Homo sapiens: one gene and its partners. The protein of the gene in region 1 purifies or fractionates together with the protein of each later gene. This does not show direct contact. Each region holds a gene or a part of one and is shown in the gene's direction. Other genes may lie near its edges.

What was found.
Region 2: the proteins of KHDRBS2 (region 1) and ACAA1 purify together in Homo sapiens (affinity purification with mass spectrometry; 2 studies listed by BioGRID and IntAct, with this or other methods). This does not show direct contact.
Region 3: the proteins of KHDRBS2 (region 1) and MVK purify together in Homo sapiens (affinity purification with mass spectrometry; 2 studies listed by BioGRID and IntAct, with this or other methods). This does not show direct contact.
Region 4: the proteins of KHDRBS2 (region 1) and ATG7 purify together in Homo sapiens (co-immunoprecipitation; 3 studies listed by BioGRID and IntAct, with this or other methods). This does not show direct contact.

Annotation. Positions count from the first base shown.
Region 1 is NC_000006.12:61,680,404-61,688,475, reverse strand, and holds part of KHDRBS2 (KH domain-containing, RNA-binding, signal transduction-associated protein 2), read left to right. Parts: intron 1-7,415; coding exon 7,416-7,513; 3' UTR 7,514-8,072. UniProt on the Homo sapiens protein: RNA-binding protein that plays a role in the regulation of alternative splicing and influences mRNA splice site selection and exon inclusion. Binds both poly(A) and poly(U) homopolymers. Phosphorylation by PTK6 inhibits its RNA-binding ability.
Region 2 is NC_000003.12:38,133,554-38,141,465, reverse strand, and holds the start of ACAA1 (3-ketoacyl-CoA thiolase, peroxisomal), read left to right. Parts: upstream 1-4,338; 5' UTR 4,339-4,430; coding exon 4,431-4,601; intron 4,602-4,780; coding exon 4,781-4,874; intron 4,875-7,456; coding exon 7,457-7,514; intron 7,515-7,574; exon of another isoform or gene 7,575-7,912. Other genes in the region: myeloid differentiation primary response protein MyD88, read right to left, coding at 180-334, 618-709, 874-1,078, 1,468-1,602, 2,438-2,765. UniProt on the Homo sapiens protein: Responsible for the thiolytic cleavage of straight chain 3-keto fatty acyl-CoAs (3-oxoacyl-CoAs). Plays an important role in fatty acid peroxisomal beta-oxidation. Catalyzes the cleavage of short, medium, long, and very long straight chain 3-oxoacyl-CoAs.
Region 3 is NC_000012.12:109,590,794-109,598,865, forward strand, and holds the end of MVK (mevalonate kinase), read left to right. Parts: coding exon 1-68; intron 69-447; coding exon 448-564; intron 565-4,234; coding exon 4,235-4,388; coding exon of another isoform or gene 4,389-4,399; intron 4,400-5,632; coding exon 5,633-5,784; 3' UTR 5,785-7,332; downstream 7,333-8,072. UniProt on the Homo sapiens protein: Catalyzes the phosphorylation of mevalonate to mevalonate 5-phosphate, a key step in isoprenoid and cholesterol biosynthesis.
Region 4 is NC_000003.12:11,309,587-11,317,658, forward strand, and holds part of ATG7 (ubiquitin-like modifier-activating enzyme ATG7), read left to right. Parts: intron 1-3,717; coding exon 3,718-3,834; intron 3,835-5,757; coding exon 5,758-5,907; intron 5,908-8,072. UniProt on the Homo sapiens protein: E1-like activating enzyme involved in the 2 ubiquitin-like systems required for cytoplasm to vacuole transport (Cvt) and autophagy.

The DNA of each region.
Region 1 (8,072 bases):
TACCACCATTTTTATTCTCCCTTCTGTTATTCCTCATATTATAAACTCCTTATGTGCATTTCAAAAAGCCTCTAGCTGAATTCCGCAGTCTTTTGAATGATTCAGCATTTTATTTGACAATAATGAAAGTACGTTTTAGACTTTAGTCAGATAACCTTCTACATTGTGCCAAATTATCATTCACCATTTTTTCTGTATGTTCCATTTTGAAAATCCTTTCTCTAGCTAGCTTCTTTGTCTCCTTTTTATTTAAATGAGTTATTAACTCCATAGCAATAAGATAGACACACACTTATTTAAAAATGTTAAGAACCACTGGCCTGTATTATTCTACAGCTGCAGGATACTATACAGCAGAGTCAAGCATAAAATATGTTTGTTTAAATTTTAATGACATATATAATTTTCAATTATTAATGGATGATAATTAGAAATAAAATGGTACAGATTGAGTCAATTTATTAAATACAATAATGTATAGGACAGGGACTAGAACTGAATAGGCAATTTGAAAACACCACCACTACCACCAAGAAGTTTGAATTATGGGGATTCTTTCTAATATTGCAAATCACAGTGGCCTCACCTGGGAAAACAGAAGCTGATAAAAATTATGCATCACATGCAAAACTACCTGGAATATTGTTCTTGGCACAGCCTGAAGTTTGTCAGGAATATTTTTTAAGCTTCCTTGAGTTCACAATTAGAATATAGCAGTAATTCAAACCAACTAAGCTTAGGCACAGAAGATAAAATTGTGAAACCAGGTTATAATATGGAAATTAGGTATATACATAAAGTAAATTGGAGATATTAAGCACAATAATATAAAAATACAGAAAAGTTAAAAAATGGTTTTAAGATTGCAGAAAGGAATCTTTCAACAAGAAAAAGGCAGGATAGTAATGCAAATGCAGAACATCTGTAAGACTCTGGGAACTACCGTTCAAAAGTGAAGGAATCCATCTGAGGGAAGCCTATGGGTCTGAAAGGAAGATGCAAAATATTTAAATATAATTAATTTATTGAGTAAATGATTACTGAGTGCCTGCCATGTGCATGGTAAGATTTTAGGGTTGAGAATGGAGTTCAAAGAAAGGCTAAGTCCTTTGTTACTCTCTGAATGGATTATCCCAAGTGATACATTTTTTCTAACAGAGGACATCTAATTAAAAATTTGAAAGAGTGATAAAAGTTGTAAATGCTTCCCAGAAGCTGATTGAATTTTCTGAGAGGACAAATGATGGTGAACTCAAAGTTAGCAACCCTTTTTCTTGGAACATAATGCACCATGTTCATCTGTGAAAAGAGATGCTGGTCACCCATATTTCTCCCTCTTCTGTTACCCTCTGCATCTTAAAATAATAAACTATATAATTACAAATAGTGGGAATACATGTTGTACAGTTGAAATGGTTGAGCCATTGAGTTGCAAATTTCCATTAATATTTTAAAATGCTCAGAGCAGTGCAGAGAACTCTGCATTCCACTTTGGATTTGCACCTTCACAAATTCAGTTGAAGCGGCCCACATTCTTGCTAACAAAATTAAAACTACAGTAAATCTCATTTTTTTTGGCTAATTAATTGTTGTTGGAATCAACACTAATTATTATATAATTAATACTAATTATATAATTTAAGGGAAGTAAAATAAATTAAGTCTTGTTTTATAGGGGGAAAAAAAGAGGAAAAAGAGAAAGGGTTGGTGAATAGATAGTGAGACATTTAGAGACAAAAATTCTGTATTTTCCCAACAACTAAACTTTCTGAGTCATAGTTTCCTCAGCTTTAAAAAGAAGGTAGTGTCAACAGCTACCTTGTAGGAAAATTGTGATATTTGCTAATAATATACACAAAACACCTAGCACTGTGATAGGCCCTTCAAAGTTGTGATAGAGTTTTTTAAAATATGATAGGTGTTTAAACATTAAGTAAATAAAATGGATGCTATCATAATAGTGAGTTGCAACAATAGCAAAACATCTAACCTAACATATTCTTTGGGATTAAATAGCCTCAAAACAACAAACATATATTTGAAAGGTGCTTTCAAATAGAATAATACTCCTTAGAAACATCAGAAACTTAGCTGAGATGAACAAACTGAGTGGCTCAAAGCCAGGATGAATTTTAATCAACCATGTCGTAATGCCATTATATGATTTGCAAAGCAAAAACACTAGCGGTTTGTAATGGTAGAGACTAACTTGGGTTTCCTACTTTAGTTGTGATTTTTGCATATTGATTTACAGTGTACCAAAAATCGCATGAGCTTCCTTCGTTTTGCTGTGGGTTTAACAAGCTTCTTTTTAGATTCTTTTCCATATTTCAGATATACAGACAAATAGCTATCTAAGATAGCAAAATAAGAGTATCATGACTGCACTCAGTAAGCTCCATGATCTCCTTTATCCTTTCTGAACTGATCTCTAATATTAATTTCCTCTTAGGTGGCATTTTAAAACTACTTCCTGAAAGATAAACATTAAAAGTTTGCTTTCCAGATACTTAAATAATGTCAACTTTTCCTGAATTGACCCCTCGTTCCTATGCTTCATGTTTTTCCCAACTACCTCAGTATCTCTGGAACTATCAGAGAACACAGTTTTGCAACTTTAAAAATCATCCAGATTTTTCTTTCCCACTGTGAATGCTCCCCAAGGTACCTGGTCCCACTGCAGAAATAAGAACACATTGACAAATGCATAGCACTTAATAGGCCTCATTTCGCACAGTATTTGAGATACAGAAACTTTTGAAGTCACAGTAATATTTAATGCACAGGAGTTACCTAGGTAATTTACATTCTTCTATCACAGTCAAATGTTCCTCAGTGACGCTGACTACCATGAAATAGAGATGCACTCTAGGCAGTCTGTAAAACCTGATTCACTGGGTAAAATAGCAGCCTAAGTTAATAAAAAACAGATAGAACTTTTGAAAGAAATATTGACATATACTGTATACATGCAACATGACAACCTAATTGCTAATAATGCCTTTCTGAAAAGTTCTATTTTACTTATTTTGCATAATTGGTTTGAAACCCCTTTTTTATTTAGTAGCACCATTTATTTATATGCAGCTTACAAATATTCTTATTTGCTCTTATTCAGTGTCTACCACTGTAGACGATTTCTCCTTTCATAGATCTTAGAGTCCAGTTTAGAAACAAGGCCAGATAATACAAAATAATTAACACAGGAAAGTCTTTAAAGAAAGTGAATTCTCTTAGATAAGTTAAACAGCACCTGTGTTCTTACTAAGTATATTTGCTCAGAAAATCTCTTCTTTGAGATGATTAAATGTTAGAGTTCAATGCAAGTTCAACTGAATGATGAAAGTTAGACCTCCCTTCCCTGTGCTTTCCCCAGCATTTTCTTAAAACATCAATTAAAATTGTGTCATAACCTATGAAATTTCAGGTTCATTTTTTCCTGTGTCTTTTATGGGCCCCTTAAACTGTCCTTATATGCAGGACATAGTATAGTAACTGGCATATAGGAGATCTTCAATAAATAAAAAATGTGTTTAGTGATGCTTTATTATTCATATAATAAATATAAATTTATCTAATATTTCTTATAATATATGATACTTTAAAGCCTGAATTGGAAGCCAAAAAAGGGTGGCAATTGGATCAAGTCACTTAACTTCTGTTTCTCATATCCTGATTTGCTATTTTCAGATTCACAATTATGTAACCCATTCCATAATTTCAATTTGGCGTATAGTTATTTGGTACCTTTTTTGAGGAGGAATTTGTTATTGGATTAATTCATAGCCTAGCCAGTGCTTCTCATGTGACAATGATCCTGATATTGAGAGAATCTTACTTATTTTATCATTTCCCTAAAGGATAAAGAAATTTCTAAATTTCACTGGATGCAATGAGTTTTTAAATGACATCTTAGACCACACCATGGGACTAGAAAAAAACAGGACTCTAAAATTCGTAGGAAGGCTTTAAATATTTAGAATCTGCTTGTCTACTGAGAGACCCAAGAGGACAGATAAATTCTAAGTTCATTCGTGGGTCTTTACAACTTCAAATTTCAGAGAAACTCCCATCATGAGGAACCCAGTCATGATTTGTCTCTCCCTATGTTTGGGCCTCTTCCATGCTCAAGGTTCCATGGGACTCAGGTTAGAATCCCTTCTATATGTGGTACTTGCAGTGAAGAAATCCAGAGGCCTAAATATCGCTGGTGAGCAATGAGGGGCTTGGCCAACCATATAAAGTTCAATGACACACTCTATGGTGGCACTGGAAAAACGTTCATTGGTTCAGTACTCTCCAATCTCAATCCAAAGAACATATTTTCACTAAGAAAAACTGACGTGCATTATCATGTGGCAATTGTAAATGTGTAACTATACATAAACATTCTGATATTAGGAAAGATAAAGATGGACACAAATAAAAATAATACTTTTCCTGATCTCTCTTTGCTATTGTTACCAAGAACATGTAAACAATGGAAGCAAGGTCTGAATTAAGTGAAATAAGTCCTTAATTTCCTCTGCTAATGGTATGGAATCTTGGAAAATTAGAAACTTACTTTTGCTTGGATAGGAAATCACTTTGGCTGGCGATTTACTTTTCCACGTACAAGTATCATGAACTAACAATAATTTCCATTTTCCTAGCCTTGAGCAAGGAGAAAGAGCATAGTATTAATTCACATAGAAGCAGAGCGTTATAAAAGAGCACATATTTGTGCCATGAAATATGATACTTTTGTACTTTTTAATAATGAGATCGCACTACGATTACTTCATTGAATTCAATAGTGAAATATTTTTGATACTTAGATAACCCTTTTGAGTAAGAAGTCTGATCTTTAACTCTATAACAAATATATAAGATTTCTAATTAAAGAGTTTTTTAAATAAATGTTAAATTTCTTTAGCTCAACTGTTTCTGTTTTTTGAATTATCACTGGAACTTTCTGCATAGTTCCCTTGTTCATTCATCCATCCTTTCTTTCATGTAACCTTTCACTACATTCAGCCCTAACTAGGCATTGAATTTCTCCCAGGCACTTGGGAAACAACAGTGAATAGCAACAGTCCCTATTCTAATGTTGGCTAACATTTAGGAAATGAAGAGTTTTAGCTCATCAATTAACTGCCCTAGAGATTTAGAAAAAGTCAACTGAAGCCAAGTTGATGAGTAGTTATTAAACACTTATGTCCTCTGTAGCAAGTCCCTAGGTTTATGTCAATTTAAAATTCTGAAAAAATCTGGGAGTGTATGTGACAAGTATTCTGTCACTCCGCTCATGATTGTTTAGCTGTTTTTCAGGAACATTCAGAATCTAAAAAAGGACCTGGGACTTCTATTTCCTGGGAAAACTTGAAGCCTCTATTGTCTCAGCTCTTAAATCCTGTAGAGTGAAACCCAGGGATTTCTAACACTCTGGAATAATTGGAGCAAAAAGTAGTACATTCTTTTTGTTAAAAACCATGATAAATTGGGATACATTTTACCATCAGAGGACAAAAACAATGATATAGCCTGGATTATCTCATAAACGTGGTGTAAATATTCATTTTACATAAGGCTAAGAAGGTACTTTCAAGCTTGCACACACTGAATGTGTTTTCCCTTTGAGTACACCAAAAACAGTTTTATTTAGTTCCAATCAAGCAAATACATGGAATTCTTTTCATTTTTATGTTGATAAAGTCAAATGGTTTGGGGATAAATTCCTGCCCTCAAAAGATTACATCAGAAAGACCAACATCTGCATTTTCCCACCAAAAACAACATGGTCTAGAGCACAGATCTGTAAACTTTTTCTGTAAAAGCCCAGAGTATAAATATTTTAGGCTTTTCAAGCAGTATAATCTCTATCACAGTTACTGAACTTTTCCTTTGTATCGTGAAAGCAGCAATAGACAATATGTAAATAAACAGCATGCCTGTGTTCCAGTAAAACTATTTATAAAACAATCAGCTGGCCAAATTTGGTTCACAGGCCAGAGTATGCCAACCTCTGATCCAAGTAAACCTGTATTTTGAGCAATGGGAACATTTGTTATATTTATTTCTTTCTTACTCCTATTTTATATCCTATAAAAGACTAAACAGTGAAAGAGATATAATTTTTTATTTATTATCAGGTATCAGTTGTAATAATAATGCCCTGGTGAGAATATTCTCAAAAAACTAATATTTGTCCACTTAAGTGCCATTTTTCCCAACAATGATAAACTTTTGATCATTTTTCTACATAGTAGATTGTTTTCATTTGCTCTATATTATAATGAGTACAATTGAAATTTTTTATGCTTTTCTAGTAGTCTTTCTCAACTAATTCTTATGATCGGAGGAACTATCTGGGGGCAAATGCCCTACATTAGTTGCCCTCAATCTGCAATTGTTTCCCAGTTAATATTTCCATTTTTTTATATATCAATTATCAATATCTATGCGTCTCTAGTAACCTTCTTTCCTTTGTCTGCACCTCCTTTTACACACCCATGCATGAAATCTGCTCTTGATGAGGAACTAAATTCTGATTGAGAGACCAAAATAACCTAGTTGCTGGAATCACATAAAATGTCACCATAAAGCCAACATTGAGTTATTTTAAAGAAGAATTGCATTTCTTTTCTGGGGACACAGATTTTACAATAGCTATTTTCCACAGTACTCAAAAGCTTGGTTACTTGTTTCTTGCTTTTTTGGAATAATAGATTTCTACTACCCTCAATGTTTTGGAACCTAGCCAAAATTAGCAGGTAAATGGAGTTTTCCTGGTGTACTAATACTTCTTTATTTACTGAGTTGTTTACTTGGAAAAACTGATATCTTTGTGTTTTGTTTTGTTTACTGATTTTGCTGCTTAAGGTTTTTTCTACTCTATATTCTGCTTGTCTCTCACTTTCTCTATACAATTTAACACAATGGATCTCAACCCTGGACCATATAACTATCATCTGGGGAGTATTTGAAAAATACCAAACCGTAGGTCCCAGCCCATAGAGTTTTCTAATCAGTAGATTTGGGGGACAGAGAGCAGGTGTTAGTTATCTTTTATTTTGATTGTTTAATATTTCCAGGTGATTCTCAAGTTATTCAAGGGCTAAGGACTACTGGTTTCCTATATCCAATTTATTTATTTATTTTTAAGAATTCTATGTAAAAAGATTTTATGGGCAGGGGTTTACATTGATACTCCTCTTTCTATTTTGTGGCATTTAAATCTAACACATAATAAATACACAGTACACATTTATATACACACACTTTTTTGATGGTCTCACGATGTGGAAAAAATAGGCTTTAGCGTTCGGTGTTGAGATCTTTTGTTTTCTTTTTCTCGGTCAACTATTGTGTCTTAAATGACTATTTTTGGTAACTGTGAAGTCATGTGTGTGTTACTATCTTTCTCTTTTTCACAGCACCAGAAGAATGGGCCACAACCCGCTCTAGCTTGAAGGCACCACCGCAAAGGTCAGCCAGAGGGGGATACAGGGAACACCCCTATGGTAGATATTGAAGGTCCTTCCCACCTGTGACCTCACCTCAAAGACAATTCATAGCCTGTGGTCTCCACATAAACAGCAACAAGACAAGTAATAGTCCTTTTTTTGTTTGTTTGTTTCTATTCTAGGGATAACTGCTCATGATTACTCCCATATATTTCTAGTATTTCCCTCTGTACTGTTGGCGTGACATTGACACTAGTATTATTTTACAAAACAGACTGAAAAAGACATTAGCAAGCATAGTCTATAAACCTTTCAGTAGGATGATATTCTCTTGGTTGTTTTTCATTGTTGTGTGTAATCTTTTTTTTTTCTTTTTCTTTTTTTTTTTTTTGAGGAAAAGCATGAATTTGTTAACAGATTTTGAGTCTCAACCAACTAGCAGAAACTTTGTTTAGGGTTGCTAAAAGACTGTAATATGATTTTTGAACTAGCTGATAATAAAGTTGTAGATAAGATGTTTTAACCTGTCTTTTAATATCTGTTAGTTAGACAAAGATGTTTGATATTAAGTTTGTAAATTTAATTTTAATGCTGTTTTAATGGGGTTGAAAACAAGCAGCTACTGTA
Region 2 (7,912 bases), on another chromosome or scaffold:
TCCATGCAGGACATGAAATGTGATGTCCAGCTGCTGCAGACGTGTCTGTGAAGTTGGCATCTCCAGGAATTGAGAGGTAAGTAGAGCACAGATTCCTCCTACAACGAAAGGAGGAGGCAGGGCAGAAGTACATGGACAGGCAGACAGATACACACACACCCAGGGCCTCAGAACAGTCTTCAGGGCAGGGACAAGGCCTTGGCAAGGCGAGTCCAGAACCAAGATTTGGTGCAGGGGTTGGTGTAGTCGCAGACAGTGATGAACCTCAGGATGCTGGGGAACTCTTTCTTCATTGCCTTGTACTTGATGGGGATCAGTCGCTTCTGATGGGCACCTGCAAGCCAAGGGGTGCCATGCTGGCATCAGGCCCTTGCCCCATGGTGGGACAAGCCCAGTCTTCAACCCCAGGGTTAACAACAGCCATCCCCCATCTAAGTACCCCTGGCACACATTCACTCACACAAAAAGGCACACACATGCACACATGCTCAGGTGTGCAGAGATCTTCAGCAGTTCTTTGGTACTGCATCCACAGTCCTTGGGGAGGGAAGGCTGACAATCCAGAGGCCCCACCTACACATTCCCTCATTCTCTTGCCAGAGCAGGGTTGAGCTTACCTGGAGAGAGGCTGAGTGCAAATTTGGTCTGGAAGTCACATTCCTTGCTCTGCAGGTAATCATCAGAGACAACCACCACCATCCGGCGGCACCTAGGGGAGAGTGGGCAGGCTGCAGGTCCTGTGGCAACTTAGTTCAGCATATCCCCTGGGAATAGCTTCAGGAAGGGCCCACTGTGCCCAGGCTGGACAGTGCACAGCTAGGAGGAGATGCCCAGTATCTGGACCCCAGGGCAGGGCTTCATGCATCCACGCACCCACCCCGTGGCCTTCTAGCCAACCTCTTTTCGATGAGCTCACTAGCAATAGACCAGACACAGGTGCCAGGCAGGACATCGCGGTCAGACACACACAACTTCAGTCGATAGTTTGTCTGTTCCAGTTGCCGGATCATCTCCTGCACAAACTGGATGTCGCTGGGGCAATAGCAGATGAAGGCATCGAAACGCTCAGGCATATGCCCTGGGTGCAGAGCACAAGGGTGGTGGTCAGAGCTCCATGGGAAGGCTTGGGAGGGATCCAGCCAAGAGTCCCCTGCCTAGGCAACCCTGGGCCCTGCACCCTTCCCAAGATGATACTCCTCAGAGAAAGTGCCCTTTCCAGGAGAGGAAAGATGAGTACCTCAGGGGCTAAGCTCTGGATTAACCACGAGACAGACATTATTTCATGAGCATCTCACAGCAATCCAGAGGTAGGACTATTATCTCCATTTCTTAGGTGAGGAAACTGAGGCTCAGAAAGATTAAGTGACTTGCCCAAGGTCTCACAGCCCATCTGCTTCAAACACCCATGCTCTTAACACCACAATGTCCTATTCCACCTGTCCCATGGGAACAGTATTGGACCCTTACCCAGGGGGTCATCAAGTGTGGTGATGCCCGCCAGCTCTGCTGTCCGTGGGACACTGCTGTCTACAGCGGCCACCTGTAAAGGCTTCTCAGCCTCCTCCTGCTGCTGCTTCAAGATATACTTTTGGCAATCCTCCTCTGTGGGGAAGAGACAGAGTAAAGCAGCCTCCCTGGGAGTGCCTACCTCTTTACCCACAGTCAGGATCCAGCCGCTGTCCCACCTCCTCTGGCTGGGTTGTTCTAGAGGGCTTCCCCAGTTCACTGGTGCCACGCGAAGCTCAACGGCTCTGAGAAGTTGAGCTCCCACTGGCTCTAACTGACCCAAAGGGATGTCAGTGGTGTTCTGGCTTTCTGGAAGGCCATCAAAGTCAGGTTTGTATCTCTGTCCCTTCCTAGGGATCCTAAGAATGGTACCAAGGTAGGTCTGCTTCTTCTGGGATCCAGGGCAGATGTGAGCAAGGGGCTGGGCATGCCAGAAAGGCTCAGGAGACCCACTGGTTATGGTGCAGTGATTCCAACTCAGCAAGGTGTGCCTGTCTGTGGGCGGCTGTATCCAACGCCTATGCATGTATATTATGTAAGTGCCAGTGAGTAGAAAGAAGGGCTGCATTTCCCCAGGACTTGAGGTTTCTAAGACAGTCCACTGTCAATCGCCCCACCTGTCCTGTTGCTCTACTTGAAACAGCCCAGATGCCCCCACAGAAGCCTGATTCTGACTCCTGGCCCTACCTGAAAGCCTCTGCCTAAGCTGCTTCCTTCCCATCTCCGCCTATCCGGACCTTTCTCCAGTCCTTCTTAATAACCGCGACCGGTTATTAAGAAGGAACGGGACCCGCATGGTTCTCCCTCTGCAGGCTTCTTCGGGCCCCCGAGGCAGGAAATGGGGTCTCTCCATGGGAGACAGGATGCTGAGGCCGCGGAAAGTCAGCCTCCTCACCCCCCAGGTACGAGGCCAGGAAGGGGACGTCCTCACCAATGCTGGGTCCCAGCTCCAGCAGCACGTCGTCGCGGCCCAGCTTGGTAAGCAGCTCGAGCAGTCGGCCTACAGAGGCGCCAGGGCGTCCCTGCCAGGCGTCCAGCAGCCTGCCAGTGGGGTCCGCTTGTGTCTCCAGTTGCCGGATCTCCAAGTACTCAAAGTCCATCTCCTCCGCCAGCGCGGTCCAGTCGGCCGCCACCTGTGTCCGCACGTTCAAGAACAGAGACAGGCGGCGCCGCACTCGCATGTTGAGAGCAGCCAGGGGAAGGGAGGATGTGGAGGAGACCGGGGCCGCAGACCCCGCGCCGGGACCTCCTGCAGCCATGGCGGGCGGTCCTGGAGCCTCAGCGCGGTCGGGTCGCATTGTCTGCCAGCGCTTCCTCTTTCTCCTGCGGCACCCGCCCCGCCCCGCCGGCTTTCGCTTTCCGAGAAGCGCCGCCCTGCCCTACAATCTGGAGCCCCGAGCAAAAGTGCGGAGGCGGGGGTGCCCACCTCTACCCTTGAGGTCTCGAGGCGGGTGATGTGGGGGGCGTAAGAAGTAGGAATCTGCCTTTTGAGATCTGGAGAGGTCCACGGCACCGCCCTCGAGGGTCTGGTGATGGTGCTAGTAGGTTGGCGGCGGAGTGAGGACGACCCTCCTTCGGGGGTTGTAGGAAACGGGCCTTGCTTTTTGGGATCTGGTGGAGCCACAGTTCTTCCACGGAGGAATCTGAGGGGTTCATACGGTCCTGCCCTCGAGGATGGCGAGGAGGGGACAAGTGGGAAGGCACCAGCTCTGCCCTCCACTGTCTCTGGGGAACACGCAATCCTGCCAGTAGGGGTATGGGAAGACCCCTGCTGTGCTCCCCGAGGTGGGAGTGGGAAACGGACAGCTGCCTTCTGGAGCCTGAGGCATGCCGTGGCCCTGCCCTCGAAATGGTTGGGGACGTCATGACACTAGGTTGGGGAGCACAAGGCACCCTGTCCTTTGGTGTCTGTGGAAAGCCCAGCACTACTCTCCAGGGTCTCAGGTGAAGACATGGCCCTGCTATTGGGAGTCAAGGGGGCACGTGGCCTTGCCCTTTAGGTTTAGGGACACAGTCCTGACCTGGGGAGCCCTGGTTCATTCATTTACTCATTCGACAAGTACTTATTGATCATCTACTAAGTGTCAAGGGTGTCGCAGGCTCCCCGGATACATGGTACCTCTCTGCCTTGGTGGAGACCCCAGCCTAGCACGGGAAATGGGCACTAATAAAATCATTCCAATTGGGTGTAAAACTGGTAAAAGTGTGAAATGTTCATTCTCCAGTTAGAGAGCTTGTCACACCCCGCATGTCTGTAAAATCTGTTCTCCCGGCCAGCCCGGAAGCCCAAATTCCCTGTCTTCTCGAAAGAATGGGAAAGCCCAACCACGTCGGAGCAGGACTCGGGCGTCTCGGAAGTATTTAGGTCCCCCAGCTCGGGTACTGGGACCGGAGGGATAGCAGAGCCTCCTAGGAAGTGGGTAGAGGAATTAGAGCCTCGGCTTCCATCTCCAGCCCCCAAGCAGTAAGCGGTCCTGGCTGCCCAGCCTTCCGTTTGGCTGCGGGCAGGAGACAGGGATTTGGGGGTCAGGTCTCGGGTTTGGCTACAAAAGGTGGAAAGACTTCCGGTCTGCATTTCTGGGCGGGGATTCGTAAAGATACACCTTCTGGTTGGCTGCGGTAGGCCAAGGTAGGCGGGGCATTGAGTGGAAAGCTCGGCTGGGCGGTGCCTGTGGGCCCTCCTATAGAGGGCTTGGTAGGCGGTGGCGGGGAGGGGCGGGTTCCCAGGCCGACTCTCCTTGTGGTTGGCTGAGGCTGGAGGTGGACGGGACTTTTGGAGGGTCGCTCGCGTCTGTTCGCAGAGCTGTGGGCGGAGTTGAGGCCTTGGAGGCTGAGATGTGGTTCTGCGCGTGTGCGGACGGCTGTCTGTTAACTCCGCGGTCAGTTCCCGGACTGGTGGCTGGTCTGCAGGGTTGACCTGCGCAATGCAGAGGCTGCAGGTAGTGCTGGGCCACCTGAGGGGTCCGGCCGATTCCGGCTGGATGCCGCAGGCCGCGCCTTGCCTGAGCGGTGCCCCGCAGGCCTCGGCCGCGGACGTGGTGGTGGTGCACGGGCGGCGCACGGCCATCTGCCGGGCGGGCCGCGGCGGCTTCAAGGTGAGGCCCGAGGGTCTGGGCGCCGAGTGTGGGAAGACGCCGGCGCGGGCTGGGGTCCGGTTCGTATGTTTGGTTATCCTGGACGCCGGAGGCAGCTCCGCACCCAGCTGTGGTCGCTTTGTCTCCCTGGGGTGGGCATGGGGGAGTGGGGGTCACTGCGGCTGCTCTTTCTGCTGCAGGACACCACCCCCGACGAGCTTCTCTCGGCAGTCATGACCGCGGTTCTCAAGGACGTGAATCTGAGGCCGGAACAGCTGGGGGACATCTGTGTCGGTGAGCGAACCACTCAGGCCCTGCGCTGGGCCTTCCCCGTTCTTCCGTTCGTCCAGAGCTCTCCTCACCTCCCCGCCCCGAATTTTCACTGGGGGAACCTCCATGGCCTTGACCTTTGAAGGGGTCCTGCCCCTTCACACCTGTGGGTATTTCTCGTCAGATGGGAGGAGAGACTGAGAAAAGAAATAAGACGCAGAGACAAAGTGTAGAGTGGGCCCAGGTGACCGGCATCGGTCTCCGAGTTCCCTCAGTATTTATTGATTACTATTTTCACTATCTCGGCAAGGGGAGTGCGGCAGTGTGGGGGAAAGGAAGAGAGATCAGACTGTTACTGTGTCTGTGTAGAAAAGGAAGACAGAAGAAACTCCATTTTGATCTGTACTAAGAAAAATTTTTCTGCCTTGAGATGCTGTTAATCTGTAGCCTTAGCCCCAACCCTGTGCTCACAGAAACATGTGCTGTATTGAATCAAGGTTTGAGGGATTTAGGGCTGTGCAGGATGTGGCTTGTTAACCATTTGTTTGCAGGCAGTATGCTTGGTAAAAGTCATCGCCATTCTCCATTCTCGATTAACCAGGTACACAGTGCACTGCGAAAGGCCGCAGGGACCTCTGCCCAAGAAAGCCTGGGTATTGTCCAGGTTTCCCCCCACTGAGATTGTCTGAGATATGGCCTAGTGGGAAGGGAAAGACCTTACAGTCCCCCAGCCCGACACCCGTAAAGGGTCTGTGCTGAGGAGTATTAGTAAAAGAGGAAGGCCTCTTTGCAGACACCCGTAAAGGGTCGGTGCTGAGGAGTATTAGTAAAAGAGGAAGGCCTCTTTGCAGTTGAGATAAGAGGAAAGCATCTGTCTCCTGCTTGTCCCTGGGAATGGAATGTCTTGGGTGTAAAACCCAACCATACATTCTATTTACTGAGATAGGAGAAAACCGCCTTATGGCTGCAGGTGAGACATGCTGGCGGCAATACTGCTCTTTACTGCACTGAGATGTTTGTGTAAAGTCAAACATAAATCTGGCCTATGTGCACATCCAGGCACAGCACCTTTCCTTAAACTTACTTATGACACTGAGTCCTTTGCTCACATTTTTTCCTGTTGACCCCCTCCCCACCATTACCTTATAGTAATGGTATATAATGCCACATCCCTCTTGCCAAGATAGTAGAGATAGTGATCAATAAATACTGAGGGAACTCAGAGACCAGTGCTGGTGTAGGTCCTCAATTGCTGAGCACCAGTCCCCTGGGCCCACTTTTCTTCCTCTATACTTTGTCTCTGTGTCATTTCTTTTCTCAGTTTCTCGTCTCCACCTTGCGAGAAATACCCACAGGTGTGGAGGGGCAGGCCCTCTTCAGGCAAAACGGGGTGAACAGGGTGATGGTGGGGAGAAGGTCAGCAGGAAAACATGTGAGTAAAGGAATCTGCATCATAAATAAGTTCAAGGGAAGGTACTGTGCTGAGATGTGCATGTAGGCTAGATTTTTGTTTCTCTTTACCCAGACATCTCAGTGTAGCAAAGAGTAACAGAGCAGTATTGCTGCCAGCATATTTCGCTTCCAGCCACAGGGCGGTTTTCTCCTATCTCAGTAAATAGAACCAATAGTCGGCTTTACACCGAGACATTCCGTTCCCAGGGATGTGCGGGAAATAGAGGCCTTCCTCTTTTACTAATCCTCCTCAGCACAGACCCTTTACAGGTGTCGGGCTGGGGGACAGTAAGGTCTTTCCCTTCCCACGAGGCCATATCTCAGGCTGTCTCAGTGGGGGGAAACCTTGGACAAATACCCAGGCTTTCTTGGGCAGAGGTCCCTGCGGCTTTCCACAGTGCATCATGTCCCTGGTTAATAGAGAATGGAGAATGACGATGACTTTTACCAAGCATACTGTCTGCAAACATATGTTGACAAGGCACATCCTGCACAGCCCTAAATCCCTTAAACCTTGATTCAATATAGCACATGTTTTTGTGAGCACAGAGTTGGGGCTAAAGTTACAGATTAACAGCATCTCAAAGCAGAAACAATTTTTCTTTGTACAGATCAACATGGAGTTTCTTATGTCTTCCTTTTCTACATACACACGGTAACAATCTGATCTTTCTTTTCCCCACAATCTTCAGTCCAGCCCTCTATTCCACCCCTCACCTTGAAATACAGCAATATGATATGGCAAGAGTCTTATCCAGCGGATGCCACCCCTAGGTCGGCAATCACTGTTCCACCTCTCTGGGGTGACAGCAGGGCTCACAGGAGGATACCTGGGGAGATGTGCATTTTCAGAAACTCCCATTTCACTTTTAAGGGCAGACAACCTGCCCATCTGTGCTGATTTGGAAAAGCTGGGTGCATGGGCAAGTGAGCGTGGGACCCTCAGGGACAGGAGCTGGTGGATGACCAGGACAAGCTGTTGTATGGCTGGCTCTCCCTGCCCCAAACCCTGATGTTCCAGAGTTGCAAGTGAGCCTGCCAAGGGCTAGTGTCCCGAAGAAAGATCTGGAATGCCTCATCTCTGGTTTTCACAGCTATACTTTAGTGCCCAGAACACCACCGCCTGGCACTGAATGAAAGTTTGTTGTCCACAGGAAATGTGCTGCAGCCTGGGGCCGGGGCAATCATGGCCCGAATCGCCCAGTTTCTGAGGTAAACTTTTCTAGTTCTAGCCATGGGTTGGCCATTTTGACACTTTACTGGGCCCAGGCCCCAGGAAACTCAGTGTGCAGGTTGGGGAGGATAAGGTTGGACACCAGAATGAGGCAACGAGAGTCCTTGGCTCCCTGCTCTTGTGGACTCAACCTCTCCCCTACTTTGAAGTGCTGAGCCACGATACACAAAACCTTTGGGACTGGAGCAGAAGTTCTCTGTAGCTTGATTTTTAGCCAAAGCCAGGTTGTCATTTGCCTTTTGTGAGTGTGGACTCTGTCCTCATTTGTCAGGTGAGTAATCAAGTAAGAATGCTGAAAAGTGACTTTCAGCCTTTTTACTAGTTGAGCTGAGAACTCCAGTCATATCCCACTAGCAGAGACTTTGGGATAGGGCAG
Region 3 (8,072 bases), on another chromosome or scaffold:
TGACCAACACCAAAGTCCCTCGCAATACCAGGGCCCTTGTGGCTGGCGTCAGAAACAGGCTGCTCAAGGTGACTCTTGTTCCCTTCTTGGGCAGGTTTCAGGAAGGCCAGGACACAATTACATCTGGATTTTCGAGGTCTCCCTCTGGCTGATGGGTTATAGGGGGTGTGGTGGGTGGTGGGGGCCCTTAGGGAGGTGGTTTTGGCAGAAAAGAAGGTACCGTCCGTGCCCGTAGCCTGGCCAGGAAAATGACAGTGGTCGGGCTCGTTAGACACACTGACTTTGCAGCTGGGAAGGCAAAAAAACAGGCTCAGAAGAGAGGTGGTTTCCCCAGAGGATGGGCACGGGCTGTGTGAACACCTCCTCCCTCCACCCCACTGCTGGGGCAGCTGTCCTGCATCTGCCTGCCCCCAGGCCTCACCAGCCGTTCCTTCTTTTTTTCTCCAGTTCCCAGAGATCGTGGCCCCCCTCCTGACCTCAATAGATGCCATCTCCCTGGAGTGTGAGCGCGTGCTGGGAGAGATGGGGGAAGCCCCAGCCCCGGAGCAGTACCTCGTGCTGGAAGTAAGAGCCTGTCTGCAGGAACCGGGGTTACTGAGTCCACACCACTGTCCAAGGCAGTGGCTCTGCAATCTGGCTGTGCTCAGAATCCCCCGGAAGCTAGCACATAGAGGTCAGGACCTGCCTCTGGCCTATGCTCTCAGCTGGGCCCAGGTCTGTGCGTGCCATATAAGCGTATCTTATTTTCAGGCCTCTTCCTGGGTGATTCCGAGTAATTGGGAGAGTGCAAGGGAGGCCAGGGCCTGGCTCGTGCTAAGTGCAATGGAAACAGGTTTGGGTCACTTCTAAGGAGCTCTGGCCCACGTAGGTAGATGGGGATGTGGCTGATGCAGAGTGCTCTGTCGGTGCAGGGGTGACTTCTTGGTCACTCTCCTGCTATTGCTAACTTCATGGGTGCATTCAACAACTACTTGTCAACTGCCTGCTTTGGGTCAGACAGATCCTAACATTGTTTTTTCATCATTGCAACCCCATCCACTGCCATTTGCATAATTCTAGTGTAGAGGTTGTGACCTGGTACTTTGGGTGTGATCAGGCCTGTGTGTGAATCCCAGCTCCACTTCTGCTGGACGTGTGGCCTCGCTAGAGTGTCTTAAGAATGCTCAGATTAGACGGGCGCAGTGGCTCACCTGTAGTATTAGCACTTTGGGAGGCCAAGGCAGGTGGATTGCTTGAGTCCAGGAGTTCGAGACCAGGCTGGGCAATGTGGTGAAACTCTGTCTCTACAAAAAATACAAAAGTTAGCCAGACATGACGGTACATATCGGTAGTCCCAGCTACTCGAGAGGCTGAGGCAGGAGGATCACTTGAGCCCAGGAGGTCAAGTTTGTAGCCTGGGCGACAGAATGAGACCTTGTCTCACACACACACAAAAAATGCTTGGAGTCTCATGGGTGACACGCAAGCACAATGTCTGGTGTGCTATGAGCTTAGGGAACCAAAGAGCCCAGGCTCCCCCTGGACACAGTCCACCTGGCCTGGTGAATATGGGCTGTTAGCCATCTGGCTGCCCTTGCAGAATGAGAGGATCGGGTGGCCCCTAGCTGCCGTGGCTGTGCAGCAGCCGTCAGTGAAGGGACAGGAGAGGGGCGTGCGGTCTCCATGTCACCACAGTCCCTCCCCGCGCCCCGCACTCTGTAGTCATTGCCTGGTGTCTCCCGGTCCCCCGTGGGCATTCGAGTCTGTAGCCCCTGTGCTGAGTGGAAGCTGCCACTAAAGCAAGCCTTTTACAAATGATTCTTTTCACTTGATCCTCACACCCACCTCCCTGTGAAGTAGGTGTCTTATCCCTATTTTACAGATGTAAAAACTGAGGCCTGAAGAGAGACTTCCCCCAAGGTTATCCAGCTAGTGAGTGGCCGAGCCAGGGGTCCAGCCGACGGACTGGTCTGTCCCTTTATTCAACAGATCTGTCATGAGCACCTACTATGTGCCAGGGCAGCGCCTCCATCGAATTCCTGTGTTTCGGCCCTCATTCCCTCAGTCTTTGTCTTCCTAGCTCTCAATTCCTTCCACATAGAAAGGAGGGAACACAGTCCCCCCGAGTAGGAAATCAATAATGATAGAATACTGCCTAAAATACACCCTGTCGAGTCCCTGGAGAATGCCACAGAACAGCACGTTGATTATACATTGTGTGTATTTTTGGCTGTGGCAGCCGCTGAAATGTGCAGCTCAGCTCCTGGACAGCTTTGCACTCAAACCAGCGAACTGTTCTCCTGTGTCACAACCTGTCATCTGATCCTTGACAGATTTTGGATCAGAATGTGACAGGTGTCTGGAACCTGCCTCGGCAACGTGACACCTGGTGCTCAGGCGCAGAGAGCGGCCCCCAGAAGTCTTCTCTCACATCCAGCCCATCAGGCTGGTGAGAGGCACCCGGGGCTGCCACCAGGCCATCATGCCTGTCTGCTCATTTGTCAAAAATGGTGAGCTTGGCGCAGAGCGAGGTATGAGGCAGGCTGTTGGGGAGGGCCACTCCAACCCTGCCTGACCGGCCATCCCCATGCGGGAGAGCTAGGTGGGCCTCCGCAGAGATGCCTCAGTGATTGGCAACTCCTGGTATACAGGCAATCCAGGTGCCCCGGAACAGAGCTTCACACGGAAGTGAGGAATGCCAGGGGGTGCTCTCAGAGGCAGGGTAGACAGGAGCTTCATGTCAGGCAGACCCGCCTTCCAGTGCCAGCTTGGTACCTACTAGCTCAGTGATCGTGGGCAAGTCACTTCTTCTCTGAGCCTCTGTTTCCCCTTTTGTAAAGTGGGGATGATGCTAACGTACCCATAAAAATACTAACAGCACATATCTCGTGCCAGGCATTGAACAGAAAACTCACCTTGTTTCGTCTCAGGGCAAAGAAGCAGATTTTTTTTTTTTTTTTTTTTTTGAGACAGAGTCATCTTGCTCTGTCGCCCAGGCTGGAGTGCAGTGGCACAATCTTGGCTCATTGCATCCTCCCAGGTTCAAATGATCCTCGTGCCGCAGCCTCCTGAGTAGCTGGGATTACAGGCACACGCCAACATACGTGGCTGATTTTTGTATATTTAGTAGAGATGGGGTTTCGCCATGTTGGCCAGGCTGGTCTCAAACTCCTGACCTCAAGTGATCCACCCGCCTCGACCTCCCAAAGTGCTGGGATTAAAGACGTGAGCCACCACACCCTGCTGAGGCAGATACTCTTATGACCCCGGTTTACAAGCAGGAGACAGACCCAGTGCAGAAGACCTTGCTCAAGGACACACGACCAAAAAGGGGCAGAGCAGAGACTCGAACACAGGCCTACTTGACTCCAAATCCCATGGTTTTTACTTCCTGATGGCTGGGACCGTGGCTGGGCACCCATCCTTAGAGCCCCAGCACGTTGTGGGTGTTTGGTAAATGAAATCTAACTACTGGGTGCCTGGGCAGTGGAAGCTGTGAAGTTTTATTTTTTCATCCACATGCATCTTGTTGGATCCTTAAAGAGCAGGAAGTTTATCCTGCATAACTGAAGAAACCTAGACAAACAGCTGTTTCCCTGCTTATGGCCTTGCTGGAGTTACACCTAGTTCTTATTCTGAAACCAGTCCCCAAGGCAGCTGTAGGGAGGCATGTTATTTGAAACTTTTTCTCTTGCAAATGGCAGAAATCCATTTCAACCAGACTTTTGTAGAAAGGGAATGTATTGGCTCTCAACTGAGAAGACCAGAGGTAAATGGCTTCAGGTATAGCTCAATCCAGGGGCTGAAACAATGTGTCGGGAATCTGTCCATCTGCCACGTAATATCTGATCATGTGGCAAGATAGGTCATCTTGGCGACTTGTGTCTGAAGTTAATTATTTTAGCAGCTCTAGTGGGAAGGGGCAGAGGAAACCCTGGGAGGGCTGTGATTGGCCCAGCTTGGACCACATGCCCATCCCTGATCAGTCACCAGTGCCAGAGGCTTCTGTGACCAGCCCTAGGATATGTGCTCACTGCTGTGGTGAAGGTATGCTCAGCTCTACCCAAGCTCCGTGAGAAATGCTGCAGGGCAGAAGGATTCTTTTACAAGTGGAGAGGGCCAGGGTGCCAGGTAGGCAAAGCCGTTGGCTGTCTCCAGCCAACAACTGTCAGATGGACGAGGCAGGCTCAGGGGTGGGCATAGGACCTTGGCCTCAGGCAGGCCAAGTGGGAACAGATGGAACCTTCTCCCCTAGGAGCTCATTGACATGAACCAGCACCATCTGAATGCCCTCGGCGTGGGCCACGCCTCTCTGGACCAGCTCTGCCAGGTGACCAGGGCCCGCGGACTTCACAGCAAGCTGACTGGCGCAGGCGGTGGTGGCTGTGGCATCACACTCCTCAAGCCAGGTATCCCGGGGGTAGGTGGGCCAGGCTGCCAGCCTGGGCTCCTAAGAGGGGTCCACCTGGAGAATTCCCTTGAAAGGAAAAAGAGACCTGGAAACAGGTCTCAGCTCCGCTGTGTGGCCTTGGGCAAGTTAGTTAACCTCTGGTCTTTGCTTCCTCATTGGTAAAATAAGGATGAGAGTATCTAGCTTGCAAGATCGTTGCCCAGATTCAAGCAGGAAAGTGCACCTAGAGAGCCTGGTGCAGGGCTGGGCTGTGGCTGGGGCTCCTGTCATCGGGGCTGTCCGCACAAGCTTGGGAAGTAACCAGGGCATTGTCACTCTCCACGTCTGCCTAACCTTGCCCCACTTGTACCCTTGATGTGGTCAGGATGCGGTTGATTTTGCTACAAAACGAAAGGGTTTCCTTCCCGTTGGTTTGGGGAAAGAGGAAGACCGAGTAATGGGCTTGGCTTAGGAAGCTCCCTGGTGCCTGGGGGCCTGGCAAGGGGCTTCTGCTAGTGTTTAACCACCTGACACCTACCTCTGCCCTCAGGCTCGCTCCTGGCCTACAGTAGGCACTAACCGGTCCCACCTGCCTCCATTTCCCTCTGTGCTCCTTGTCCCCTCCTTCCTTCCTTCTTTCTCTTTCTGTCTTTATCTCCTCCTCTCTGTTCTTCATCCTTCCTTTCCCCTCTGCTTTGCACTGAGCCCCCTTAGGCTCCAGACATCCCCTCACACTCCATGATGGCTCCCAGGCCTCAGGAGGTGGCCACATCCTCACTCCAGCCAACCCCAACTGTTGGTTCCTAGTTCAGAGCCCATGACGATGGTGGGACTTGACATTTCTGGAGTGTGCCCGCTGTGCCAGGTGTTGTGCCAGGCACTTTACCTGCGTTATTTCCTTTAAGCCTCCCTGAGATCTGCACGGGGAGTCATCATTAGCCCCATTCCCAGATGAGGAGACTGAGACTGAGAGAGGGGAAGTCACTTGTCTGAGGCCACACGGCCAGTACAAGGCAAGGCCAAGTCCTGTGACTTGAGAGCCCATGTTTTTAACTCTTGCTCCCTAAACCCCTGGGGGTGCAAGGCTGGGCATTCCAGTGCACGGAGGGGCTGCAGGTAACCTTGGGCTTTATGGCCTGTTGGCTCAGGTGGGTCACAGCCAGGAAGGCACAGCAGGAAGGCCTGGGCTTTTGCCTTGAATATGATGAGCTTCTCCCACGGAGCGGAGAGTTGTCAAGGGTGACCTGCCTTCCCTCCCCGCAGGGCTGGAGCAGCCAGAAGTGGAGGCCACGAAGCAGGCCCTGACCAGCTGTGGCTTTGACTGCTTGGAAACCAGCATCGGTGCCCCCGGCGTCTCCATCCACTCAGCCACCTCCCTGGACAGCCGAGTCCAGCAAGCCCTGGATGGCCTCTGAGAGGAGCCCACGACACTGCAGCCCCACCCAGATGCCCCTTTCTGGATTATTCTGGGGGCTGCAGTTCGACTCTGTGCTGGCCAGCGAGCGCCCAGCTCCTGACACTGCTGGAGAGGCCCCAGCCGCTTGGCGATGCCAGCCAAGCTCTGCAGTCCCAGCGGTGGGACCTAGGGAGGCATGGTCTGCCCTCTGCATCCTCTGGAGCCAGCCGAGCAGGAGGCCTAGGAGGGTCCTCTGAGACTCCAGACCTGAGGCGAGAAGGGCTGCTTCCCTGAAGCTCCCACAGTCCCATCTGCTTCAGGCCCCCGCCTTGGCCTGTGTTCTTCCTGGCCGCCTGGGTCCAATGCTCAGGTGCTGGGGCCTGGTTCCCGGAGAAGTGTGCCTTCTCTCTCCCTTTTCAGGGACCGCCCCCTGTCTCTCAGGGCCAGGCCTCTCCCTCCTCCAGGAAGCCTTCCCCTACCCCTTGTCGCCCCTCCCTCCCAGAGCACCTGCTGTCTGGGTGGCTCACTCAGCACTTGGTGTGGCCTTCCCTTCTACCTAGCGGGATGGGGCTCCCCCAGGGGCTGTCCCGGAGGCGGTGGGCCTGGTTAAATAAGGCAGGGTTTATATGCACTTTCTTCCGATCTGTACCTGAGAGGTTTGTGGAAAAGATGGCAAATGGGGAATAAAAAGATTTTGTGTCAACAGTAGAGACTCCAGGCCACCAGCACCTCCCTCTGTCCCTGTCCCCTCTCCAGCTGTTTCCTCCATGGAGCTCTTCAGCAATGGAGGGAAATAGGGTTTGGGGTCACTTTGTTGTGCGTCTTGGGGATGAGGTGGCTTTTCCCAGATGGCCCTTGCTGGAGAGGGACTGGGACACGGCTCTCAGTCCATCAGCACAACTCTAGGCTGCTGCTGCGGAGGGAGAAGTTGAGCTTCCTAGCTCCAGAATCACAAGCACCCACGAGAGCACAGACCTGTGTAAGACAGGAAAGCAGAACCTGCCATCGCTCCTGGGGCGCGCCTTCCTTTCTGAAATGAACTGGCTGGATGGAGAAAACAGACTCAAATGTTCTGGCCCGGGTGCCTGGCACTCCCCACCCCCGCCCCCCACCGGCCCTATTTGAACTTTATATTGCAGTCAGCTTGGTGCTTTCCGAAATGCCATTAGCCATCAGGAAACCCTTGTAGTTGGTGCCTTGCCAGCCAGAACCTCTGGGACCCACGGACCTGCAAAGAGGCCGAGTGGAAAGGTGGGGGCCGGCGCAGGGATTTCAGGATGAGGTGAAAGCGATTCAGTGCGCGTCTGCCCTTGGCCACTAGGGGGCAGCTGGCGGCCTTCCCTGCTGTTGTCTTCCTGCAGGGTGAGAGGAGCAGGAGCCGAGCTCCACCCCCACGCCAGCCTTGGGCCCGGCCTGGGATCACTGCTGGGAACGTGAGAGTGAAGGGAGGACGCCTACCCCAGCTTAACTTGTAGAAATGGCCCCAGATCACTGATGGCTGTTCCCTGCCCCTTCCCTTCAAAACACAACGCATAAAGCAGTAATACTAATTAATACTGAACGCTCACTGTGGACTAGGCGTGTTTACGCATCGCCCCTTCTCATCTCTGCCCCGACCTCAGTGTCATTGCTAGTCTCATCCCCGCTTTACAGACCAGGAAACCAAAGGTCAGAGAGATCGAGTAACTGGTGCAAGTCCACACAGCTCATCAGCATCTGAGGCCGGATTCAAATGGACTCCAGAGCCTGCTCTTAGCCCCTACGTGTGTCTGCTGGGTGCGGCTCTGTGTGCAGGCTCACTGCGATTTTTTAGCTTTCTGTGCTCAGGCTCGTTTTTCTGGATTCGGATGTATTTGACCGGGGTGGGGCTCGGACCTGCATGTTTTCCTCCCCACGCGATTTTAATGAACAACCAGGCCAGAGGCTGCTGTGCCCTCAGTGATGGCGCTGGCTGACAGCCAGCCTCCAGCCTTTAGGAGGTGGGCCTGGGAGCCTCCCCAGGCTTCCATAGATGTCCGCGGCAGCTGTGAGATGGGTGCAGGGGACAGAGGCTGAGACCCCCAGAGCCCGTCTGCTCCTTGAGGCCCTCTCTCTCTCATTCCCTGGGGACAGGATGTCACTCCTGGGGCAGGGGCCAGCTCAACACTCTTGCTCCAGTGAAGCAGCTGCCGGTGCGCTTTGGCCAGAGCAACCTTTCAACCCAGCCACCCCTGCGGCCACCATATGGGCCTGGTGTCACACTCCTGGCTACCTTGTAGACAGTTGGCACTTGCGGCTGTCACCCCTTCTCATTGCCTATTGCAGTGG
Region 4 (8,072 bases), on another chromosome or scaffold:
ATGTAGATGGAAGGACCTGGCCTTGGTGAGGGAAAAGTAGGGAAAAGGTAAGGGTCGATTATAGAGATACCAGCTATGCATGCATGCGCGTGTGTGCGTACACACACACACAGATACCAGTTATACACAGGCACGTGCACACACACAGCAACACACAGATGTGTGTATATATATCTGTGTATATAAAACTAATTTATATCCTTTATTATTATATTGACTATATAACATTCTGTCAAATGTATGTTTCATAGATTCCTGTTATATATTTAGGTGGTTTCTAATATTCACTGTTATAAAAAATGCTAGTCTGGGCACAGTGGCTCATGCTTGTAATACCAGCACTTTGGGAGGCTGAGGCAGGTGGATCACTTGAGGCCAAGAGTTTGAGACCAGCCTGGGCAACACCTTGTCACTTCAAAAAATATAAAAATTAGCTGGGTGTGGTGGCGCCTGCCTGTGGTTCCAGCTACTGGGGAGCTGAGGTGGGAGGATCATCTGAGCCTGGGAGATTGAGGCTGCAGCATGCCATGATTGCACCACTGCACTCCAGCCTGGACAACAGAGTGAGACCCTGTCTCAAAAAAAAAAAAATACTGTGGTATATTGAAAAATATATAATATTAGCCATATTGATCTTTTCTCCTGCTCATTTTACTTCTTTAGAATAAGTTCTTTGGAGCGGGCATATAAACACAGTAATGTTGCTGTGTATTAAGTGTGCTGTTTCACCACAGCATCATCAGCTTTGGACATTAATCCTCTTTCCCACTTCTTTTTTTGGCAAGTTTTCCTTCCCCGACCTCCCACCGTTCCTCCTAGATTCCTAGATGCAGGGGAGGCCTCTGATTTATTGCCCAAGGCAAAGGAGGGTATGATAGCAATCAAACAAGGCCAGTGGGTGGCTATCTACAAGGAACACATTTTCTAACAAGTTATAATGCTTTCTATGTAATAGTGGAGGAGAGAGAAAAATGTTTAAATTTTTTGTCTGATTACTTGGCTCAGTTTGGCATTAATAATCTGTCTATACGTTTGGGTAATTCTGTAGTTTTTTTTTTTTTTTTGAGACGGAGTCTCGCTCTGTCACCCAGGCTGGAGTGCAATGGTGCGATGTCGGCTCACTGCAAGCTCTGCCTCCCAGGTTCATGCCATTCTCCTGCCTCAGCCTCCTGAGTAGCCGGGACTACAGGCACCCACCACCACACCCGGCTAATTTTTTGTATTTTTAGTAGAGAGGGGGTTTCACCGTGTTAGCCAGGATGGTCTTGATCTCCTGACCTCGTGATCCGCCCGCCTCGGCCTCCCAAAGTGCTGGGATTACAGGCATGAGCCACCGCATGCAGCCTGTAGGCTCTTTACTGGGATAAATTGTAAGCATTGCTAGTTAAAGATTTCTAGTTACTTGAACGTCAGTACGCTTTCTGTACCAAGAATTCTCATAGTAGAACATGCTGACAGTTTGCATTTAATGAGAAAAATAACATTAGCTCTTACTTAAAGTTTTAAGGTTTGCCTAGAGTCAGTATGTGTGTTGGTCTTGCTGCCTTGTTTACTGAGCATTCTTAGCCTGACTTAAAAAAAATTGTAAGTATCTACTTTTTAAAATCTTCAGACACCAAGGACTTTATGTTTAATTTAATGGAGGTCATTTCTATCCTGAAAAGAATCCTAAGAAATGCAAGCTTTTTGACTTTTGAAAATGACCTGATAAAGTTTCTTAGAATTCGTGAGGTCCGGCCGGGTGCAGTGGTTCATGCCTGTAATTCTAGCGATTTGGGAGGCCGAGGTAGGCGGATTGCCTGAGCTCAGGAGTTTGAGACCAGCTTGGGCAACATAGTTAAACCCCGTATCTACTAAAATTAAAAAAAAAAATTAGCTGTGCATGGCAGCCTGTAGTCCCAACTACTCGGGAGGCTGAGGCAGAAGAATTGCTTGAACCTGGGAGGTGGAGGTTGCAGTGAGCTGAGATCGTCGTGCCGTTGCACTCCAGCCTGTGTGACAGAGCAAGACTGTCTCCAAAAAAAAAAAAAAAAAGATTTTGTGAGTTTCTTCATCTTGAATTGTTTAACCTTTTACTAAATATCGGTTATGACAAATCATTTAAGTACAAAGAAGAGAAAATAATCTCTGGAGGTGTTTTTGCTTTCCTTCTGCTGTTTTTTAGGACTCATAGGACTAGACAGTTCATTAATTTCAGCTTTGCAGTTCATTTTGCCATTGTGAAGAGGGAATTTTTTCTTAGTTGATCAATGAATAGCAGAATTAGAGACCGCAGAGATTACAATTATTAGACTTTCTCATCTGTACACATGATTACATATACATTTACATTTTAAAACTCATCTAGTATGATTTCATTTATATGAAAAGTCCAGACTAGGAAAATCCACAGAGACAGAAAATAGATTAGTGGTTGCCAGGGGATGAGAAGAGGGGGAATGGGGAGTCTCTGCTAATATGTATGAGATTTCTTTTTGGAGTGATGAAAATATTCTGGAATTAATAGTGATGATGGTACAACCATATCACTATACTAAAAAGAAACCACTAAATTGTATACTTTTTAACATGGTGAATTTTATGGAACGTAAATTATATCTCAATAAAAAGTCATCTAACAACCATCCAATTTTAATTCTTAGCAAGATTCAAGAAGAAATATTAATTAGCTACATAAACTGCATTCATATTCAGTGGTCACAGGCTTGTAGGCAAGCTGCCAAATACCCACATATGTCTGGAATGCTACCATGAATTTAATTAAGGCCCCAAAAGCTGTAAGAATTCTGAAGCAAGAGCCATTAGCGTGAGTGGGAACAGTGTCAAAGACAGCCTCACAAATCCTTTCCCCTGGATCTCCTACCCTGGTGGGGGATCGGTCAGATATACCCGTGAAGATGTAACCTCTTCTATTCACCCATCCAGCTTACTACTTAGAGCCTCTCCATGGCTCTAATCATGCACTCGCTTTATCTCTGCTCTGTCCACAAAGTGAGCTGCCTGGTGTCTGGGACTGGGGTTTATTCATCTTATTGTCAGTGTCTTATGTTTTGCCTTGTACATAGCAAGGGCTTGATAGTTGTTGACTTAAATCCACTAAGCCATTTACAAAAGCAATATTGTATTATTTCAGGCATGCATACATATGTGAATAGCACAGCTTCCTTAATAACATGTAATTTATTTGATTGTGAAGAGAATGGTAACTGTTTGGAAGTTGTGCTTCTGTAGATAGTACATTAAGTATCTATGGTCAGTGGAAAAAAGCTTAAGTTTTGGAAGCAGAGTTCTGATCTCTTCTCTGCCCCTTGCCATCTTTTTTGTTGTTGTTTAGGTTTTTTACCCCTTTGTAAGATTCAGTTTTCTGTTTATAAAATGGGATAATAGTAAATACCTCCCAGGGGGGTTTTGTAGGTTAAAGGATGATGATGATAATATCAATTACATATTGCACATTTTCTGTTAGCAAGTGGTCAATAAAGTATATTATGTTTGTCATCATATTATTAGTGGTGGTATATGAGACTATTTTGGGAATACAAAAGTCCTTTATTTGATCATGAGTTCTGTTGGGGATGAGGATATTTGATAAGCTGGACAGACTTTGTTTGCATAGCTTTGCTATCTTAATTGGCCTTGAGAAGCTACATTAATAGATGCATTTCACCTTAAGTTAATGGTGCTATTCTAATAACTTATTTATACTTTTTTTTCTAGGATCTAAAGAAGTACCACTTCTACTATTGGTTTTGCTATCCTGCCCTCTGTCTTCCAGAGAGTTTACCTCTCATTCAGGGGCCAGTGGGTTTGGATCAAAGGTTTTCACTAAAACAGGTATCAACAAATAACCAAAATGCACATAAAATTGGGTTGAATGTGCAAGAGTAGTTATGTAGTTCTTTCCAAAGACAAACAGGCACTTCTCTGGATGAAGACGTGGTAACTGAAATCCTCCAAAGGTGGTACTAGGAGCAGACTTATTTAGAAAATGTTTGTAAAGTCATTTTTTTGTATATATATTTATATATGTTTTGAGACTGGGTCTCACCCCCATTACGCAGGCTGGAGTGCAGTGGCACGATCACTGCTCACTGTAGCTTCAACTTCTCAGGCTCAGGTGATCCTCTCATCTCAGCCTCCTGAGCACCTGGGACTACAGGCATCCCATCACACCTGGCTAATGTTTGTCTTTTAATAGATATGGGGTTTTGCCATGTTGGCCAGGCTGGTCTTCAACACCTGGGCTCAAGCAATCTGTCCACCTCAGCCTCCCAAAGTGCTGGGATTACAGGCATGAGCCACCCTGCCTGGTCTGTAAAGTCATTTTGAAGATGTAGTGCACAGTAATTTTCCAGGTTTTCAGTGGTATTTGGTGAAATGCTAAGCCAGTAAGGGGGAATTATAGGAATATTTTGAAACACTGAAAGAATTTACCAAAATGTGGTCTTCATTTTCAATGTGGGGAAACATAAGGCAGTATAGTCTGGGAAAGAGTCTTTGAAACAAAACAGAAGGCATTCTCCTACCCTTGTACCAAGTTGCAGAACTTTTCTACCTGGAGCAGTACATGCAGAGTTAGTCGGTGACATTTGGGATAGATAATAAGTTCATTAGAGATGGTTCCCAGAAGAGCAGTTAAAATAATCAGGCTGGTATAACAGAGACCCTAAACTAGAGAATTCTTATTGTTGTTAAGGCAAAGATTATGTGTCAAGATGATTTGAATTCTTGAAACACATCAATCACTAAAGCCCTGAATACTGATGCCATCATTCAGGGAGCTCTCTTGGAGCTGTTCAGGGAGCAGCCATTATTGATTAAATTTTTTTTGTTGTTGTTCGTACAAATCCGAGGTTGTGGTTTTGTGGAACTAATTTCCCAAGAGGAAATATAAGTAAGGAAAAAGGATTTTGGCTGAGTATTGACTGCTGGCAGGTATGGGGTTTCTTTTATTGAGGACAAAAATGTTCTGTAATTATTGCTGTGGTGCTTGCATAACCCTGTGAACATACTAAAAAAACAAACAGCACATTGCATTATGTACTTTAAATGGGTGAATTGGGCCAGGCACGGTGGCTCACAACTATAGTGTAATTCCAGCACTTTGGAACGCAGAGGTGAGCATACCACTTGAGCTCAGGAGTTCAAGACCAGCCTGGGCAATATCGTGAAACCCCATCGCTATAAAAAATACCAAAAAAGTTAGCTGAGCCATGGTGGTGTGTGCCTGTGGTCCCAGCTACTCAGGAGGCTGAGGTAGGAGGATTGATTGAGCCCAGGAGGTCGAGGCTGCAGTGAGCTGTGATTGCCTGGGTGACAGAGCAAGACCCTGTCTCAAAAAGTAGTAAATGGGTGAGTTGTATGGTATGTTAGTCATGTCTCAGTAAAGCTGTTGAAGATTATGGAAAGGTTCGGGGTAAAATTCATCAGGGGTAGATTCATGTTGGGTTATCATAGGAGAGAAAGAATGTTTCGTTACCGCTCTAAAACTCTGATTGACAGCTTAGGGAACTACCATGTTGTAGTCCCTTTGTGCCCCTAAGACACACACCACCATGCCCCTGGAAAGTGTTATATAAAAGCTAAGTGGTATTATTTGGAGGCACTTCTATGTTCACTTGCTGTAATAGAGTAAGAGGAGTGTGATCAGTCATTTCTAGTCTTCTGGTTTTAAGGTACCTTTTTTTTGAGTTAGTTTTTAGCCCAGAACTAGAAATGTAATTTTCTAGAGAATAACAACGTGTTTTCTGTTTTCAGATTGAAGCACTAGAGTGTGCATATGATAATCTTTGTCAAACAGAAGGAGTCACAGCTCTTCCTTACTTCTTAATCAAGTATGATGAGAACATGGTGCTGGTTTCCTTGCTTAAACACTACAGTGATTTCTTCCAAGGTCAAAGGACGAAGGTCAGATAAACTTTGAGTATCATTTTATTATATAGTTTTTTAAAAAATCTGAAGTTCATGTTACAAGAGACCACTGCAAAATTCAAACTTGTTTAGATTTCCTTAGCCTTCAAAGGATGTTTAAGAACATTTCCTTATCTCTATCCTCTCCCACCCCTACAGTTATCGAATCAGCTCCTCTAGGTTTTTCTAGCTCTACTACAGCTCAGAATAATTTTGATACCTTACTCTTTTTTTTTGTTTGTTTGTTTGAGATGGAGTCTCGCACTGTTGCCTGGGCTGGAGCGCAGTGGCGCAATCTTGGCTTACTGCAACCTCTGCCTTCCTGGTTCAAGCGATTCTCCTGGTCAGCCTCCCGAGTAGCTGGGACTATAGGTGCCCGCCACCATGCCTGGCTAATTTTTTGTATTTTTAGTAGAGACAGAGACGAGGTTTCACTATGTTGGCCAGGTTGGTCTTGAATGCGTGACCTGCTTCGGCCTCCCAAACTGCTGGGATTATAGGTGTGAGCCACTGTGCCCAGCCAATACCTTACTCTCTATTAGTGCTAAAGTTATTTCCGTTTTCCCTCCTGATGTATTTTACCCTCTATGTTTTAATTTTTATTCCCAGAACTACCCTGTAGTTCAGGCCCCTCATATCACACTCCTGGACACTTAGAATCTTGTTTCCATGTTGTGCAACACTACTGTAGAAGAATCTCCCTTGAACTACCCACATTTAGTGTATCATTCATTGACCAAGAGCATAATGGTGTCTTCCTTCTGGCTCCAAGCTGCCTTTCCTGCCTTATCTTCCATTATTTTCCTCATAAAGCATTGCTCCAGCTAATCTTATCTATTTTTCTCCAGAATCTCCATCCCCTTCCCGTCAGATACATCTAAAACTTTTTTTGTATCTTTGTTTTTCCTCGTGTTGTATCATCTTCCTAAAACATGTTCTACTTGTGAAAACCCTAAGAAATTCTCTCTGTCTTATTGAAATTCTATCTCCACTGTGAAGCATTATCATGGTGTGGCCATATATGATCTATCCCTATCTGAAGTCACTGCATTTATTCCCTGATCCTCATTTGCAGGTCCAGTACCTTGTACAAGTTTCTTTTTGTGCCATATTAGACTGTAAGCTCCAAGAGGGCAGGGCCCAAGTCTTATGAATTTGTGTCTGCATAGTGTCTAGTACTTGTCTGAGGCCCTCAATAAAATTCTTTTGAGTGAATGAAAGAGTACCGTAAATGTCTTTTAGAAGTGATCAGATATATAGGAAGTTGTCTTAGCCATACAGGAGACTATGAATTAAAAATATCAAAGATTATGAGTGTTATGAAGTTCTGAAATCAAATGGAATCATCTCCATAGCCATGTGAATATATCAGAGCTGAAAAAAGGAAAGCCTTTAACTGACGGTCTGGTTATTCTTTAGCCTGAACTTAGGATGACTTTTTTTTTTAAAAGCACATTTTAAAATCAACTACATTTACATTTTATTTTTCAGAGGAAGCCCACCTCCCCTTTTTTGTTGTATTTTTATTAGAGATGGGGTTTCACCGTGTTAGCCAGGATGGTCTTGATCTCCTGGCCTTGTGATCCGCCCACCTCGGCCTCCCAAAGTGCTGAGATTACAGGCGTGAGCCACCACTCCTGGCCCAGAGGAAGCCCTTTTTAAATTGAGGACTGAAGATTGAATTTTTATTAAAATTCTTTCCCCCAGGTGATTTCACAGAACCACAGCTAAATTAGTATAGCAATAAGACCGTTAATAATTTAAAGTCCAATCTAGTGTGAAGTCCTCTTGTCATAGCAGGCAGGATTAAATGGCCTGTGTTTGGAAGCGACCGTAGGTCAGGTTGTATGTGGTAAATAAGTGGTCCTCCCCAAAGTGCAGCTCTGCCAAAATAATAACAGTTTGAACAGTGCTTTACAATTAATTTAAAAGGGACTTTCACATACTTGATCTTTTTATGATAAGTCTGTGAAACAAGCGTTAGTTACTACCTGTGGTTAGTTAATTAGTATCTGCATTTTCTGTTTGAGACTCAAAGTCACACGACCACATTGTCTGATTCCGAAGCCTATGCCCTTTCTTTCTTTCTTTTTTTTTTTTTTTTTTTTGTTTTTGAGGCAGAGTCTTGCTCTGTCGCCCAGGCTGAAGTACAGTGGCACGAT